Linked DNA regions of Homo sapiens: region 1 is linked to region 2. Evidence: fine-mapped expression QTL. A gene starts in region 2. The other region holds a variant in brackets. All regions are shown on one strand. Distances are from middle to middle.

Evidence for each region.
Region 1: its variant is fine-mapped to the expression of EMC3 in whole blood (TOPMed, PIP above 0.99).

The regions. Positions count from the first base shown.
Region 1 is chr3:9,957,900-9,967,481 of GRCh38, forward strand. EMC3 (ER membrane protein complex subunit 3) reads right to left here. Exons shown (of 8, transcript NM_001394674.1): 8 at 4,783-6,298. The coding sequence ends at 6,170. Among named protein-coding and RNA genes, the nearest start is that of PRRT3, 10 kb to the left of the region's middle. The variant T/C (reference allele first, on the strand shown) is at 5,921.
Region 2 is chr3:9,983,278-9,991,277 of GRCh38, forward strand. EMC3 (ER membrane protein complex subunit 3) reads right to left here and starts at 3,564. Exons shown (of 8, transcript NM_001394674.1): 1 at 3,230-3,564. The coding sequence starts at 3,384. EMC3-AS1 (EMC3 antisense RNA 1) reads left to right here and starts at 3,616. Exons shown (of 3, transcript NR_103821.1): 1 at 3,616-3,987; 2 at 5,435-5,470. RefSeq lists enhancers at 3,382-4,029, 3,494-3,653, 3,914-4,133.

The DNA.
Region 1 (9,582 bases), 25 kb before region 2:
GGGAGGCAGAGGTTGCAGTGAGCCAAGATCGTGCCACTGCACGCCAGCCTGGGTGACAGAGCAAGATTCTGTCTCAAAAAAAAAAAAAAATTCTGGTAAAATAGTGATAATTACTTTATTATTATTTATTTATCGTTTTGAGACAGGGTCTCGCTCTGTCTTCCAGGCTGGAGTGCAGTGGTGCAATGATGGCTCACTGCAGCCTTGACCTCCTGGGCTCAAGCAATCCTTCCACCTCATCCTCCTCGGTAGCTGGGACTACAGGCATGTGCCACCATGCCTGGCTGATTTTTTTTTTCATTTTCTTGTGAGGCCTCACTATGTTGCCTAAACTGGTCTCCAACTCCCAGGCTCAAGTGATCCTCCCGCCTCACCCTCCCAAAGTACTTGGAATGCAGGCATGAGACATTGTGCCTAACCTATTTTACTGTTTTAGAGACAGGGTCTCAATCTGTTGCCCAGGCTGGAGTGCAGTGGCACAGTCATGGCTCACTGTAATCTTCAACTTCTGGGCTCAAGCAACCACCCACCTGCCTCAGGCTCCTGAGTAGCTGGGACTACAGGCATACGCCACCATGCCCAGATAACTTTATTTTTTGTAGAGACAGGGTCTTGCTATGTTGCCGGGCCAGTCTTGAACTCCTGGCCTCAAGCAATCCTCCCACCTCAGCCTCCTAAAGTGCAAGGATTACGGGCGTGAGCCACTGCACCTGGTCAGTACTTTATTCTTTTTACTGCTGAATAATACGCCATTGTATGGCTATACCATATTTCATTTATCCATCTGTTAGCTGATAGACATTTGGGTTGTTTCCCACCTTGTGGCTACTATGAATATTCATGTATACATAATTGTGTAGACATGTTTTCTTTTTCTTCTTTCTTTTTTTTTTTTTTTTTTTGAGACAGAGTCTCGCTTTGTGGCCCAGTCGGTAGCCCAGGCTGGAGTGCAGTAGTGCGATCTCAGCTCACTGCAACCTCTGGCTCTCATGTTCAAGCAATTCTCCTGCCTCAGCCTCCTGAGTAGCTGGGACTACAGGAGGCTCGATCCACCTGCCTTGGTCTCCTAAAGTGCTGGAATTACAGGCATGAGCCAACGCACCTGATCTGGACATATGTTTTCTTTTCTTTTTTTTTTGAGATGGAGTCTCACCCTGTTGCCTAGACTGGAGTGCAATGGCATGATCCTGGCTCACTGCAACCTCCACCTCCCAGGTTCAAGCGATTCTCCTGCCTCAGCCTCCCGAGTAGCTGGGATTACAGTGGCGCGCCATCACGCCCAGCTAATTTTTGTATTTTTAGTAGAGACGGGGTTTCACCATGTTGGTCAGGCTGGTCTCGAACTCCTGACCTCGTGATCCGCCTGCCTCGGCCTCCCAAAGTGCTGGGATTACCGGCATGAGCCATTATGCCCGGCCAGTATGTTTTCACTTCTCTTGGGTATATATCTATTTAGGAGTGGAACTGCTGAGTCATATGGAAATTTTACATTAAAACTTTTGAGGACCTGCCAGACTTTTCCAAAGTAGCCTTGTGACTGGTGGGGAGACTGAGGCCCAAAGAGGGAAACTGTCTTCTGCAAAGCAACACAGTGAGTGTGAGAAAGCAGGAGCTAATCATGGACATGACTTCAATGCTGCGCCTTCTCCTCTGACCGCATTACCATCTCACTCTCACTCCAGTGCTCTCCATACCCACTTCTGCCCCTCCATTCCATTCCTTGCCCAGCAGCAAATCCCTTCACACCAGTCCCTACAAAGGCTTCCTGCTGCCATCATCAGGATGAAGTTCCGCCTCTGAGGGATGACTTATAAGCTCCTCTGCCATCTGGCCCTAGTGCTGCCTCCTCATCTTGTCTTCTGAAGCAGTTTTAGTGAGCTATAATTCGCACCCCACCCCATTCACCCGTTTTAAGTGTACAATCCAAATGTTTATCAGTCCTTTCATACTCTACACTGCAGGGTCATGCAGGTCTTGTTTCAGTTCCATGAAAACACCAACATCTTTGCTTCTGAGACTTTGTGCACACCGTTACCTCTGTTTAGAACAGTCTGTATATTTTTTTCTGGCAAGTTCCTCATGATCTTTCACATCTTAGTTGAGATGTTTCTGCTGGGAAGCCTTCCCTGAGCATTCGGGTTGACTGGATGACCTGCAGGATGTTCCCATGGCCTCCCTAGGATCGTCCCTGTCACAGCATGTACTATAGTAGTCTGAGGTTTTTTGGTTTTTGTTTTTTTTTTGAGATGGAGTCTCACTCTATCGCCCGGGCTGGAGTGCAGTGGCGCAATCTCGGCTCACTGCAAGCTCCACCTCCTGGGTTCACGCCATTCTCCTGCCTCAGCCTCCAAAGTAGCTGGGCCTACAGGCACCCGCCACCATGCCCGGCTAATTTTTTTGTATTTTTTAGTGGAGAGAGGGTTTCACCGTGTTAGCCAGGTTGGTCTAGCAGTCTGAGTTTTTAAGGTCTGTGACTGTGTCTTGTTCATATGCAGTGCCTGGCAACACTCAATTCACTATTGGTTGAATGAACAGAAAGATCTGAAAATATCTAGCATGGCCCTGAGCACACTGTAGAAATCCTGCAAATGTTTGCAGACCGCAATTACTTCCAAGGACAGGGACAGCACCTCCTGTTGGGAACATTCCAGATGGTTTGGATGATTAAAGGTAAGATAAGATATTTTTTGTCTGGTACCCATGCCACTTCTTCAGGCAACAGCATCCCAGTTTTCCTTTGGGGAATCACTCTTATTATACCTTCAGTTCTTATAGTTTATGAGAAGCTAAGCAGTTCCTGGAATTTGCAGTTGACTTAAGGCAGATGAGTTAAGATGCAACCCTAACTTTTCCTAGATTTTTTAAAAAGGGGTGCTTTCTTTTCACTAGGATTACTAATCTCGTGCCTCTATAAGAAAACTAACTGTCTAAGAAGCAGACTTGAGAAAGCAACTGAGTCCTGATGATATCATGAGAGGCCCTGGACCCAGCTGTGCCTGAAGCCAACCACCAGACATTTTAGTTATTGAGTCAATTTCCATTCCTTTTTAATTGCTTGAGTTCAGCTTGTCACCTGCAACTGCAATATTCCTAATCCAGTTAGTAACCCTCTTTCACATACACACATACCCATCACACACCTTACAGACCAAACAGAGGAATCGAGCTGACTTTTGTCCCTAAGCACGGGTTTACCTACTCACCTCAAATCTAAATTGTATTTTTCTGAGTTGTGTTGTGCAGTTGACTGTCAATATTTAGCTTTCCTTGTACGGTACTTTCTATACCAAGCTTGTCTGGCCTGTAGGCTGCATGCCGCCCAGGACAGCTTGGTATGGGGCCCAACACAAATTCATAAACTTTCTTAAAACATTGTTTTTTGTTTGTTTTGTAGCTTATCAGCTATCGTCAGTGTTAGTGTATTTTATGTGTGGCCCAAGACAATTCTTATTCCAGTGTGGCCCAGGGAGGCCAAAGGATTGGACACCCCTGTTCTATTCCATGATCAGCAAGTAGACATTTGCGGTGTCCTAAGTAGTATCAGGTGATAAGTCAAGGTGGATGGAAGAGATGCAATTCTCATTTATAGCCTGGCCCAAATTGAACTCCAAGAAACACACACAATAAGCACTGCTCCCTAAGCCTGTGCGCTGTTCTGGAAAGAGCCTACTAAAACAACCTTGGCTTTTCTTTTTGACTCGCTGATGCCAAGGACAGGTCTGTGCATTTACTACCAGTACAATGGGACAGGAAAGTCTCACACACATTTTTTTATTCTTTGAGATGGAGTTTCACTCTTGTTGCCCAGGCTGGAGTGCAGTGGCACGATCTCGGCTCACTGCAACCTCTGCCTCCCAGGTTCAAGTGGTTCTCCTGCCTCAGCCTCCCGAGTAACTGGGATTACAGGTGCACACCACCATGCCTGGCTAATTTTTGTATATTTAGTAGAGACGGGGTCTCACCATGTTGGCCAGGCTGGTCACACACATTTTAACCACCCATCTTTGCTACAAGGGAAAAAGGCCAAACCTTGTGTGGGTGAAGAGGCAGACTCAAATGCTCCCGATGCAGAGGAACGAGGCGGCTACCACTCAATCACCAATTACCATTTGCATGCTACCCAACCTGGACCTTTCCAGGGCATACTGGACCACTCCCCACTTCCTTGGGGTGCAATGAATTGCAGACAGTTTAATCCATGGGCTTTTGCTGATTCTGTTTTCTCTGCTTGGAATGCCCTTCTACACAGAGGAAGTCTTTCAAGACCCAGGTCAAAGGTTAGCTCTCCTGTGAACACTTGTTCCTTTTCTATCTGGTATAAGCAGCCATTTTAACTATCGTTAAAGGTCAGGGTTTCTTAACTTGGGTCTGCGGGTCATTATGAATAAGTTTTAGAGGGACATGTCTGTATCTATGTCCACATATGTTACTCTGGAGGCCAGGGTCAGAGATTCCAGATTCTCAGATTCGGTGACCTCAAAAAAAGGTCTCTTTTGGCCAGGCACAGTGGCTCATGCCTGTAATCCCAGCACTTTGGGAGGGTGAGGCAGGAGGATGGCTTGAGCTCACAAGTTCAAGACCAGTCTGGGCAACATAGCAAGGTATCGTCTCTAAAAAAATAATAAAAAATTTTAAAAAGCTCTTAGGTGTCTCTCTCTTGTGAGTTGAGGGCAAGGTTCACATCTCTTTCGTCTTAGACTCCCCGCACTGATCCAAGATAGACAGTCAACTGCTGGCAGAAGGTTGTTAGTGACTTACAGAGGCAACACTTTCACAGGCAAAGAAGAGAAAACAGGACGGTTTAATTTGTGGAGTCGAGTCGTTTGTTCTTAATTACTGCACTCAACATGCAAATTATATTCACCTCTTGGTACAGAAATGGCACCGTCACTTCCCTGGGACCTTTAATCCAGACAGAATTATTCTTGGGCACCCTTATCTGTGTGTCTACCAACAACTGCCGTCTCTCCCTTCTTACAGCAATATGTAAATTCTCTTTTGTTCCAAGCAACTGGGAAATGAGGTCCTTCATCCAAAGGAGTAGCCATTTCCAGTATAGCACCACTGATTTGTCAATGGATTTGATAAGATTTGATACACTGACATCCAGATCAAGATTTTGCATTATTTATAGACAGTCTCTGATGATCCCAAAGGCACTTTAGAATCTGGCAGTGCCTCAGGGTCACTGATTTTCACTGGGCAGAATTAAGTGATATAGAAGGTTTGCTGAGTCTGTCCTGACCCTGGGTATTCACTCTGAAGAGAGTTTATTTGAATAAGGTTTTGACATATTTGGTCTCTATGTCTATGTAGGCTCAAAATGAACAGGGAGATTCATTTTGTTCATCCATAGTTTCTAAACCTTTGGTAGTGGAAATGGTTTACTTGTGTAAAGAAAGTTAACAATACTAACAAAACTAATGGTAAAACACAGGGTGTTTGGATCCCAAGAAAACAGGAGTTTACTGTGGCTAGATGTCAGGCTGACTGCACATAATCATTAGCTATAATTAACAATGCTTCCTTCGAAGACTGGGCTTCTGCTAAGATAGATATATATATATATATATATATATTTTTTTTTTTTTTTCAGATGGAGTTTTGCTCTGTCGCCCAGGCTGGAGCGCAGTGGCACGATGTCAGCTCACTGCATCCTCCGCCTCCTAGGTTTAAGCAGTTCTCTGCCTCAGCCTCCCAAGTAGCTGGGATTACAGGTGCCCACCACCACGCCCGGCTAATTTTTTTTTGTATTTTTAGTAGAGATGGGGTTTCACCATCTTGGCCAGGCTGATCTTGAACTCCTGATCTCGTGACCCACCCGCCTCAGCCTCCCAAAATCCTGGGATTACAGGCGTGAGCCACTGCGCCTGGCCAAGATTTTATATATTATCAGTAGCCTGAGGTTTCCCCCTTTCTC[T/C]GACTTTCATTACTAGAGTCACCAGAAGGAACATTTACAACATTTTAAAAATAACAAGTTGCCCAGCATACTCCTATTTCCTCTAGTTTCAAACATAAAGGGGAACCCAGCCCAGACAAGAACAAGCCTTGCTGCATGCCTGCCAGCTCGTGCATCCTCCTTTTTATTTCAAGAGGTGCCAGCTCCAAACAAAGTTACAAGGTTAAGTGCAACTCCAAGTTCCTGACACAGCTAATCCCTGCTCGGTCTTCAAAAAATAGAGGTCTGTAATTCCTTTTTGAACATGCCTTCGAAGTGGAGGTCTTTGGCCATGAGCTCTTCTTCGACATCATCTAGTGCCCACTGGTGATCCGTCAGCTCCAAAGCTTCCCACTCTGTCTGTAATGGAAGAGAACACCCAGGCAGGAAGAGAGGGAATTGTTACTGACAGCTGTGGCTAACCTTTAGTGACCACTTACTCTGGGCCAAAAGCTGGAGTGAGCTATCTGCATGTATAAGCTCATTCAATCCTACAAGGGAAATGCTGCTACCCCAATCCTCTCCTCCCCCTCTTCCTGCCACCCCTCAATTTATAGATAAGGAGACTAAGACTAAGAGGTCAAATAATTTGTTCAAGGCCACTGGCACTAGGAACTAATGGAGCTGAGATTTAAATTGTGGTCTGACTGCAAAGTCCCCAGCGCTTAACCCGTCTATCAGCTCACACTCACTAAGCACCTTTGTGCCCCACAGTACTCTTGAGAGATGTACAACAGACAAATTAGTGCAGATTCTCAGCTCTTTAATCAAGGGACTTGCCATCTGGTTTAAATGGTGCATGGTCCACAATGCTTTGACATAAATGGCCCAGGGTATCTTCAGTGGGCCTAAGAACACTTCCTCCAACCTTATGTCCAGACACACAATGGCACTTCATTACAGTTTGTGGGAGTCCAGTAATTTTTAATCACTGGAATAAAGACTTTGATGATGTGAACTAAAAAACTGTTTTTGGCATATAATCATTTAGATGTAAACTAGTAATATGTTGAGCAGAAATAAATTTGCAGAATTTTCCAAGAAATTACATTTCTCAAATATTCTATTAATCTGACTACTTTGCCTTAAATTAGTGAGTGTCTAAAAAATGCTTTATGAGTTGGGTGCAGTGGCATGCATCTACAGTCCCAGCTACTCTGGAGGCTGAGGCTAAGGATAGCTTGAGCCCAGGAGTTTGGGACTGCCCTGGACAACCTATCTTTAGATGAGCCTAGAGATAGTAATACCTCGTCTTTAAAAATAAATTAAAAAAAAAAAAAAAAAGCTTGCGAGATGTGGTAGCTCACACCTGTAATCCTAGCACTTTGGGAGGCCAAGGCAGGAGGATCACTTGAGGATGGGAGTTCAAGACCAGCCTGGGCAACACAGCGAGATCCCATCTCTATACAAATTTAAAAAAAAATTAGTTGGGTGTGGTGGTGTGTGCCTGTAGTACTGGCTTCTCGTGTACCAGTACTGAGGCTGAGGTGGGAGGAATGCTTAAGTCCAGGAGTTCGAGGCTGCAGTGAGCAAGGATTGTACCACTGCACTCCAGCCTGGGTGACACAGTGAGACCCTCGATAGATAGATAGATAGATAGATAGATAGATAGATAGATAGATAGAACAAGCTTATTTAATGTGAAATACAAATGTTAGCTCATGAGTGAGTTTTTCAGATATAATTTACATGTCATACAATTTACCCCTTTAATGTGTATAATTTAGTGATTTTTAGTATATTCATATGTGCAACCACCACCACTATCTAATTGCAGAACACTTTTATCATAACAAAAAGAAACCACATACCAAACAGTAGACAGCTCCCATTATTCACCTCCCACAACCTCTGGCAACTACTACGTTATCTTCCGTATCTTTTTTTCACTTATTCTGGGCATATGTGGCCTTTTGTTATTTTCTTTCACTTAGCATGTTTTCAAGGTTCTTCCCTGTTTAACATGATTCAGTATTCCACTCTTATTTATAGCTGAATAACACTCCATTGTATATATTCTACTGTACATACAATGTACATTATATTCCAAAATATTCCATTGTTTATTCATTCATTAGATGATGGACATTTGGGTTATGTCTACTTTTTGATTATTATGAATCATGCTCTGAACACATTCTCACATAAGTTTCTGTGTGGACATACATTTTCAGTTCTCTTGAGTATTTACTTAAGAGTGAAATTACTGGATCATATAGTAACTATGTTTTAACTGTTTGAGGAAAGGCAGAAAAACTGTTTTCCAAAGTGGCTGTACCATCATCAACAATAGGGTTCCAATTTCTCCACATCCTTACCGACACTTGTTATTGTTGATCTTTTTTTTTATTAATTATAACCATCTGAGTGGGCATGAAGTGGTATCTGTTTTTTTTTTTTTTTGAGATGGAGTCTCGCTCTGGCACCCAGGCTGGAGTGCAGTGGCGCAATCTCCGCTCACTGCAACCTCCGCCTCCCAGGTTTAGGCAATTCTCCTGCCTCAGCCTCCTGAGCAGCTGGGACTACAGGCGCCCGCCACCACGCCCGGCTAATTTTTGTATTTTTAGTAGAGATGGGGTTTCACCATGTTGACCAAGCTGATCTTGAACTTCTGACCTTGTGATCCACCCACCTCAGCCTCCCAAAGTGCTGGGATTACAGGCGTGAGCCACCATGCCCAGCCCTCTCACTGTTTTTTAGTTGTTTATTTTTTTGAGACAGAGTGATCTCACTCTGTCACCCAGGGTGGAGTGCAGTGGCGCCATCTTGGCTCACTGCAACCTCTGCATCTGCAATGGTGGATCTCGGCTCACTGCAACCTCTGCCTCCCAGGTTCAAGCAATTCTCATGCCTCAGCCTCCTGAGTAGCTGGGATTACAGGCAGGCACCACTATGCCCAGCTAATTTTTGTATTTTTAGTGGAGATGGCATTTCACCATGTTGGCCAGGCTGGTCTCAAGCTCCTGACCTCAAATGATCTGCCTGTCTCAGCCTCCCAAAGTGCTGGGATTAAGGTGTAAGCCACTGCGCCCAGCCAAATTTTTATTTTTTTATTGTGGTAAAATATATGTAACATAACATACACCACTTTTAACCATTTCAGATGTAAAATTCAGTGGCATTAATGACATTCACAATGTGTACCCATGTCTACTATCATTTCCAAAGTTTTATGTCCCCTTAAACAGAAAATGTGCACAGTAAGCAATTACTCCCCACTGCCCCCCATCCCATCCTCAGTAAACTCTAACCTACTTTCTTGTCTCTGTGAATTTTCCTATTCCAAATATTTTATATGAGTAATATCATGCAATATTAAAGATTTGGGACTTTGACCCATTTGATTTCTTTTTTCAAGACAGGGTCTCGCTCTGTCACCCAAGCTGGTGTGCAGTGGCACAATCACAGCTCATTGCAGCCTCAAACTCCTCAGCTCAAGTGGTCCTCCCATCTATAGGCATGCACCACCACATTTGGCTAATTTGAACCTAATTTTTTTTTTTCTTCTGCACTAACATGCCTGTTGAACCATTTGGACTTAACTTTTGTGCATGGTGTGAAATAGGTGCCCAGCCTCATTCTTTTGCATGTAGATATCCTTTTCCCAGCACCATTCGTTGAATGGAGACTATTCTTTCCCCACT
Region 2 (8,000 bases):
GCTGGGATTACAGGCACATGCCACCGTGTCTGGTTAATTTTTGTATTTTTAGCAGAGATGGGGTTTCACCATGTTGGCCAGGCTGGTCTTGAACCCCTGACTTTAAGAGATCTGCCCACCTCAGCCTCCCTAAGTGCTGGGATTACAAGCATGTGCTACTGTGTCCGGCTGTTACATTCCTTCTTAAGGAAGCGTTCTTGGCTGGGTGCAATGGCTCACACCCTGTCTCTACTAAAATACAAAAATTAGCCAGGCATGCTGGCGCATGCCGCTAATCGCAGCCACTCGAGAGGTTGAGGCAGGAGAATCACTTCAGCTGGGGAGGCAGAGGTTGCAGTGAGCCAAGATTGCGCCACTGCACTCCAGCCTGGGCAAGAGTGAGACTCTGGTCTCCAAAAAAAAAAAGGTTCTTGTAAACAGACTACACTAACTGTGAATTTCATTTTGTGGTTACAAAAGAGAGCTTTGGATCTGATATAATTCAGAACCATTGCTCTAATAGTGAACCATGGGCAGAAAATCATGGCAGAGAATCTACGACAGCAGGAATCATGGTTGAAGAGGGTTTAACCTGGGAGTGAGACTGATCTGAGTTCAAGTACAGGCACAATATTTCCCTACTTTGGGAAGACTACTTAACTTTTCCAGGCTCCCTGGAATTGTAAAAATGGGTTAAGGAGTATCTGCTTCAGTGCTAATGTAAGGCTAAAATAAGAAATTTTACAGGTGCCAGAAAATGCTAAATGTCTGAGCTTTCCCCACTTCGCACTTTTCTACAGCCCTTCTTTCTGTGGTAAATACACTTTTTTTTTTTTTTTTAAATGAGATGGAGTCTCGCTCTGTCGCCAGGCTGGAGTGCAGTGGCATGATCTCGGCTCACCGCAACCTCTGCCTCCCGGATTCAAGCGATTCTCCTGCCTCAGCCTCCCGAGTAGCTGGGACTACAGGCACGTGCCATCACGCCCAGCTAATTTTTGTATTTTTAGTAGAGATGGGGTTTCACCATGTTGGCCAGGATGGTCTCAATCTCTTGACCTCATGATCTGCCTGCCTCGGCCTCTCAAAGTGTTGGGATTACAGGCGTAAGCCACCACACCCGGCCAGTAAGTTGACTTCTTTTCTGTTTTTTTGAGACAGAGTCTTGCTCTGTCACCCAGGTTGAAGTGCAGTGGCGCGATCTTGGCTCACTGCAAGCTCCGCCTCCTGGGTTCAAGCAATTCCACTGCCTCAGCCTCCCGAGTAGCTGGGACTACAGGCGCCCAGCATACCACGCTCAGCTAATTTTTTGTATTTTTAGTAGAGACGGGGTTTCACCATGTTAGCCAGGATGGTCTCGATCTCCTGACCTCGTGATCCGTCCGCCTCGGCCTCCCAAAGTGCTGGGAGTACAGGCATGAGCCACCATGCCCGGCCAGTAAGCTGACTTCTTAAGGTTCGCTCCAGGGTGGGGTGCTGGCTCTGGTCAGTTCTGAAACTAATGCTACAGAAAGATAAAGTGATCGCTGTAGTATAGTGGAAAAAGCCCAATACCCAGAAGGCTTGGTGTGAAGTCCTAAATGTCACCCTGTGTGACGCTGTAACGCACCTGGCACTCTTCTCAACGAACGGGTGGGATGGAACTTGTTAAAGCCTCTGTTTCTATAAAATGAGACAATATGTACCTCATAGAGTTGCTTTGAAGTTTTAAATAAGTTAATGAATGTAAGTACTTCACATAGTACCTGATATAGAGTAAATGGTTATTATTCTTCTTGGCATAATTGGGAAGAACTAACTGAAAATGTTACAGTAGTGCTTCCTAAACTTCAGTCACTCTCATGCCATGTTAGAATTTTTGTCCAACGCTTGTATCATTACATATTTAATACTTTTTATATATCAACTTTTTTCCCATCTATATGATTTTAAAGGAATCTTTAAATTACCAGCAAATGGAAATCCAGTATTGTCACAAAAAAGAAAGTAACTTAAGTACAGTAGAAACAAAACAACATTATTAAATTTTAACTAGACACTGTTACCTGTGAAAAGTTCTTAGCCTGAGGCTTACTCTCTTTATTAAAACGAGAAATTAATGTGAGAGAGAGGTGCTAAAGATATAGTAGCACTTACCTGAGATGATTTCTGAAAGTAATCAGAACTGACTGAAAATTGCTTGTTTTTCTAAGAGACAAGGTCTCGTTATGTTGCCCAGGCTGGTCTCCCACAATCCTCCTGCCTCAGCATCCCAAGTTGCTGGGAGAAAACTATTACTTTAATATGAGGGGCTACATGTCTAGATAACCACCTATAATCATCTCAAATTCCTTTATCTGTATATAAATATTGCAACGAGGGGCTGGTTGCCATGGCTCACACCTGTAATCCCAGCACTTTGGGAGGCCAAGGCAGGTGGATCACCTGAGGTCGAGTTCGAGAACAGCCTGGCCAAGATGGTGAAACCCTGTCTCTACTAAAAATACAAAAATTAGTCAGGTGTGGTGGTGCGGGCCTGTAATCCCAGCTACTCGGGGGGCTGAGGCAAGAGAATCGCTTGAACCCGGGAGGCGTAGACTGCAGTGAGCTGAGATGACGCCACCGCACTCCAGCCTGGGCAACGAGAGCGAAACTCCGTCTCAAAAATAAGCAAATAAATAGATAAATAAATAAATACTGCAATGAAATATGTGAGGAAGTTGCCTCCACTCTAGTGGGGGGAAATAATTACAATTCCTTACATCTCTAATGGCAGTTTTACAGACTGCAAAGCGCTTTGGTACTTGGCATCTCAGCTGACAGTCCCACCAGGCCCGACGCCTGGAACAGTAATTTGGTAGAATGCAGATTATCACACTCACTTGACTGGATGTTACAAAGACTAAACGCTGTAACGCACCTGGCACTCTTCTCAACGGAAGGGTGGGATGGAATAGTTCATAGGTAAACCCACCGAGGGTCGGCGACTAACCTAAAGGATTAACAGTACTGTTTTTTTCAACACTCAATACGTCCTAGATCCTGTGCTAAGGGACTTACAGACATCACCTAATTTGATTCCTACCTGTCTATGAAGCAGGTACTGTTATCATCCCCATTTCACAGAGGACAAAAGTGAAACACAGAGGTAACGGGTAAGGTCACCCTGTCAGAGGGGGCGCGACGTGAACCTAGGCAAATTGACACAACTCCTGCACTTTTTTGCCCAAGGTCACGGCGGTGTGAGGTAGGCTGGAGAAGGGAGGGCGCTGACCTGTCAGATACTTGTTCCTGGGTGAGCTTCTTGTCGCTCTGCAGCAGGATGGACACGTAGTGGCGGATCATGCCTACGAAGAAAGTGATGATAACGATGGGTAGGACCACCCAGAGGCGGATGTTGGAGTCGAGCAACAGTTCTGGCCCTGCCATCTTCACTGAAAGCTGGTTCCCAGTCTGGAATGGGCGAGCTTCTCTTCTCCGGGGCACAGTTGCTTCTCTTCGGCTTCGCCTCCGGGCCTTCTCAAGCCCCTTTGCCCGTGTACCCCAGAACTCTCCTGCGACTGTGAGCCGAGCTTACTGCCTTCAGCTGGGCTGCCTGGTCTTCCACTTCCGGCGCGAACGTTGACGTCACGTCGTGGCGCACCTCAGTGGCGTCAGAGCGGCGTCGGGCCTGGCGGGAAAGTGGAAAACTATCGGCGGTGGCCCAGGCTCGGTGGCTCACTCCTGGAATCCCAGCACTTTGGGAGGCCAAGGTGGGGGGATCACGAGGTCAGGGGATCGAGACCATCCTGGCTAACAGGTGAAACCCTGTCTCTACTAAAAATACAAAAAAATTAGCCAGGCGTGGTGGAGGCGCCTGTAGTCGCAGCTACTCGGGAGGCTGAGGCAGGAGAATGGCGTGAACCCAGGAGGCGGAGCCTGCAGTGAGCCGAGATTGCTGCACTGCACTCCAGCCTGGGCGACAGAGGAAGACTCCGTCTCAAAAAAAAAAAAAAAAAAAGAAAGAAAACTACAGGCGGGGACGGCTTCTCGGTGAGTAAATGGAGCAGTGGTCGTAGTCTCTCGAGGCCCCGCTCCCCTGCGACCTAATCTCTTAAGTCCGGGCCGCGGTCGGCGTTCTTCTCTGGGGCTCCGCGCCCCAAGCCTCGGCTTCCTCATCTGCCCTGAGATGGGATAGTCCCCACAGGTACCTTTCTGCGTCGTTAAAATGAGGAAATGAGAAAGGCTTTTACCCTCACCCCCTTCCCGATGAACTAGTCCAGGCAGTCGGCCTCATCTCACGTCTGTTGGGCTTCTCGGGAAGCCAAATGGTATCGCACGTGTTAAAGGCGGGTGTCTGGAAGCCGAAAGTCCTGACTAACTGAGAATGTTGACTAATCCGGATAGCATTGAGAAGAGGAAATGGAGCTATTCAACAGATTCATTGATCTATATAAGCTGCTATAAGTTACATTTACTCTTTCTGTGTAGTACCTCACAGAATTCTGAAATTTTGGATATGACATTCTACGACATTGCATTTAGCTATTCTCACAACTCTATTTTTCAAAATGTCCAACGTTTAAAATTTTTTCTTCCTCAGTCTTTCAGGAGATTGTCATGGTTGAGAGACTGGACTGTACCTACCCACTATGAATGAGCAGAACACCATAGCTAATATTAACTTTCTGCAGGTAATCTCTGAGCTTCGGGAGAAGTTGGATCCTGCAGCATTGTGTTTTGCCATCACTGTTGCAGGCTTTCCAAGTAAAGTTAAAAAGTAAAGGACAAGCAAGGTAAAGAGCTCATGGATAATTGCCACCCTTTTCCTCACATAGGATGTCACAGTTCTCTGACATCCCACAGTCAGAGTTGGAGCTTAATACTTACAACTACAAATAATGGTACTATTATGATATTTACATCTAGTATTATATCGTTTTTCAAATTACGTATATGTATGTGGCTATGTATGTGTTCATATGTTTTCTTAGCCATTCAGATCAATCCCAGGCAGACTACAGTGCAAGTTTATTAGCCATCTTATACATGAGGTTGTCATTTACTCCAGGGTACATGGCTACTAAGCAGGAATTCACATCTTGTAAGTTCTTTTCTGGTAGGTAGAAGAGTAATTTTTTTCCTCTCTGCTACTTGTAATTCCTCAGGAAATCAAGAAAGCAGCGGTCAGAACCGTATTATTCTCTTTGATGTAATAAAGTCAGCTATTAGATATGAGAAAACCATTTCAGAAGCCTGGATTAAGGTGGGATCTTTGGAACTTTGATTATCAAGGAGGAAATGAGTGGCAATTAGTGACAGATGTATAACTGAGGTAGATTGAAATAAAAATCTCAAAACTCATTCAAGTGGAAATGATAGCTGATGGTTGCCATATGGACACATTGGCTCTTAGATGAGATAACAGGGCATGCTGAATAAGGTGTAACGTGTTTCGCTGATGTGTCATAATATTTTTGTGACTCTCCTGTTTTTTCAGGCAATTGAAAACACTGCCTCAGTATCTGAACACAAGGTAATGTTCATGTACTATGCATTTTCAGTATTGCAGACTTAAAAGTAATGACATTGGCTAGCTTGCCTTCCCACTGTCTTTCTTTCTCCTCCCTCCAGTCACTCTTCTCTCTCTTCCCTAGTTGCTCTAATAAACATTAGCTGTCTGGGGAAGATAATCTGAGGTGGCGACTGGCCAGATAGCCTGCCCCTACTCACTCTGGCTATAAAATAAGCCTACAGTATCCACAAGGGGAAATACTAACAGTGTAAACAAGCACATCAAGGTGCAGTCAAAGAAGCCAGGTCCCCACTGATGAGATGAAGAAAATAACCACCTAAGTCTCAGGTCCCTATATCTGCCTAATTGCCCTTCCTTCCACCCAGCACCACTGTCAAGATAATGGCATTCCATGTTTTACTTTACTTTGCTCATGTAGACCTGACTAGAGTAAATCAGTCTGTCCACTGTCAAAGCAGTGGTACTGGATCTTATGTCTCTATTAATTCTAGAAATACCTTCCATCAAAAAGCCAGATGATTGGCCGGGCACGGTGGCTCACGCCTATAATCCCAGCACTTTGGGAGGCTGAGGCAGGCGGATCATCTGAGGTCAGGAGTTTGAGACCAGCCTGGCCAATGTAGCGAAACCCCGTCTCTACTAAAAATACAAAAAAAAAATTAGCCTGGCCTGGTGGCACACGCCACTGCACTCCAGCCTGGGCGACAGTGCAAGACTCCATCTCAAAAGATAAAAAGCCAGATGATTGAGTTCCTTAGGTGCTGATTGGTTGCCTTTAAAGATTTTTCTTTGGTTGGAATCTGTTTTGTGGGATTTTTGTTAGTTTTGTTATCCAATTTTGGGATGACTATCTTAAAAGCTTTCATGATGATGAATAAAGCAATGAAAAAAATGAATAACTTTTTGTGGTGAGAAATATCAAAGTACTCCAAACACACTGTTTTTGGTTTTAGATAAACACAAATTTAACACCTTGACTGCCTGCATACCTATTTTTACGTATTTGTAATCATTTTATAAATATAAATATAATTTGTATTCTTTTTTCTCAACATTTTCTTCTCCATGTGCTTCTGCTTTGTCTTCATTGTTATCTTTAATGACTGTATTCTGGTCTAATGACTCTAAATTTTGGTGTCCTAAGAAGTGGAGCATTCAGTTAAGAGAAGTAGTAAAATTTGTTTTTTCTTTTTTGTCCTGCTTGCCTTTTTAACTTTTTTTTTTTTTTTTTCCTGGAAGCATAGACTCAGATTGCCCTGAATACACTCCCAGTGTTTTCTCTTTTTTTTTTGAGACAGAGTCTTGCTCTGTCACCCAGGCTGGAGTGCAGGCAGTGGCGCAATCTCAGCTCACTGCAAGCTCCACCTCCTGGGTTCATGCCATTCTTCTACCTCAGCCTCCCGAGTAGCTGGGACTACAGGCGCCTGCCACCACGCCCGGCTAATTTTTTGTATTTTTAGTAGAGATGGGGTTTCACGTTGTTAGCCAGGATGGTCTGGATCTCCTGACCTTATGATCCACCTCAGCCTCCCAAAGTCCTGGGATTACAGGTGTGAGCCACCGTGCCGGGCCTTTCTCTTTTTTTTTTTTTTTTTTTTTTTTTAAGAGACTAAGTCTTGCTCTGTCACCGAAGGTGGAGTGCGGTGACAGCATCATAGTTCATTGCAGTCTCAAACACCCGGGTTCAAGCGATCCCCCCACCTCAGTCTTTGGAGTAGCTGGGACTACAGGCAAGCACCACCAGGCCTGGCTAATTCTGTTAGTTAGTTAGTTAGTTATTTTGAGAGAGTTTCGCTCTTTTGCCTAGGCTATAGTGAAGTGCCACAATCTCGGTTCACTGCAACCTCTGGCCCCTGGGTTGAAGCAAATCTCCTGCCTCAGCCTCCCTAGTAGCTGGGATTATAGGTGCCTGCCACCATGCCTGGCTAATTTTTGTATTTTTAGCAGAGATGGGATTTCACCATATTGGCCAGGCTAGTCTCAAACTCCTGACTCAGGTGATCCACCCACCTGCCTCAGCCTCCCAAAGTGCTAGGATTACAGGTGTGAGCCACCACGCCTGGCCAATTCTTTTATTTATTTATTTATTTATTTATTTTTTGAGACGGAGTCTCGCTGTCGCCCAGGCTGTAGTGCAGTGGCACGATCTCGGCTCACTGCAAGCTCCGCCTCCCGGGTTCACGCCATTCTCCTGCCTCGGCCTCCTGAGTAGTTGGGACTATAGGCGCCCACCACCTCGCCTGGCTAATTTTTTGTATTTTTAGTAGAGACGGGGTTTCACCATGTTAGCCAGGATGGTCTCGATCTCCTGACCTCGTGATCTGCCCGCCTTGGCCTCCCAAAGTGCTGGGATTACAGGTGTGAGCCACCGCGCCCGGCCATTCTTTTATTTTTTATAGAGATGAGGTCTTGCTGTGTTTCCCAGGCTGGTCTCAAATTTTTAGCTTCAAGTGATCCTCCTGCTTGGGCCTCCCAAAGTGCTGGGATTATAGGCATGAGCCACTGCACCCAGCCCTCATATTTTTCTTTT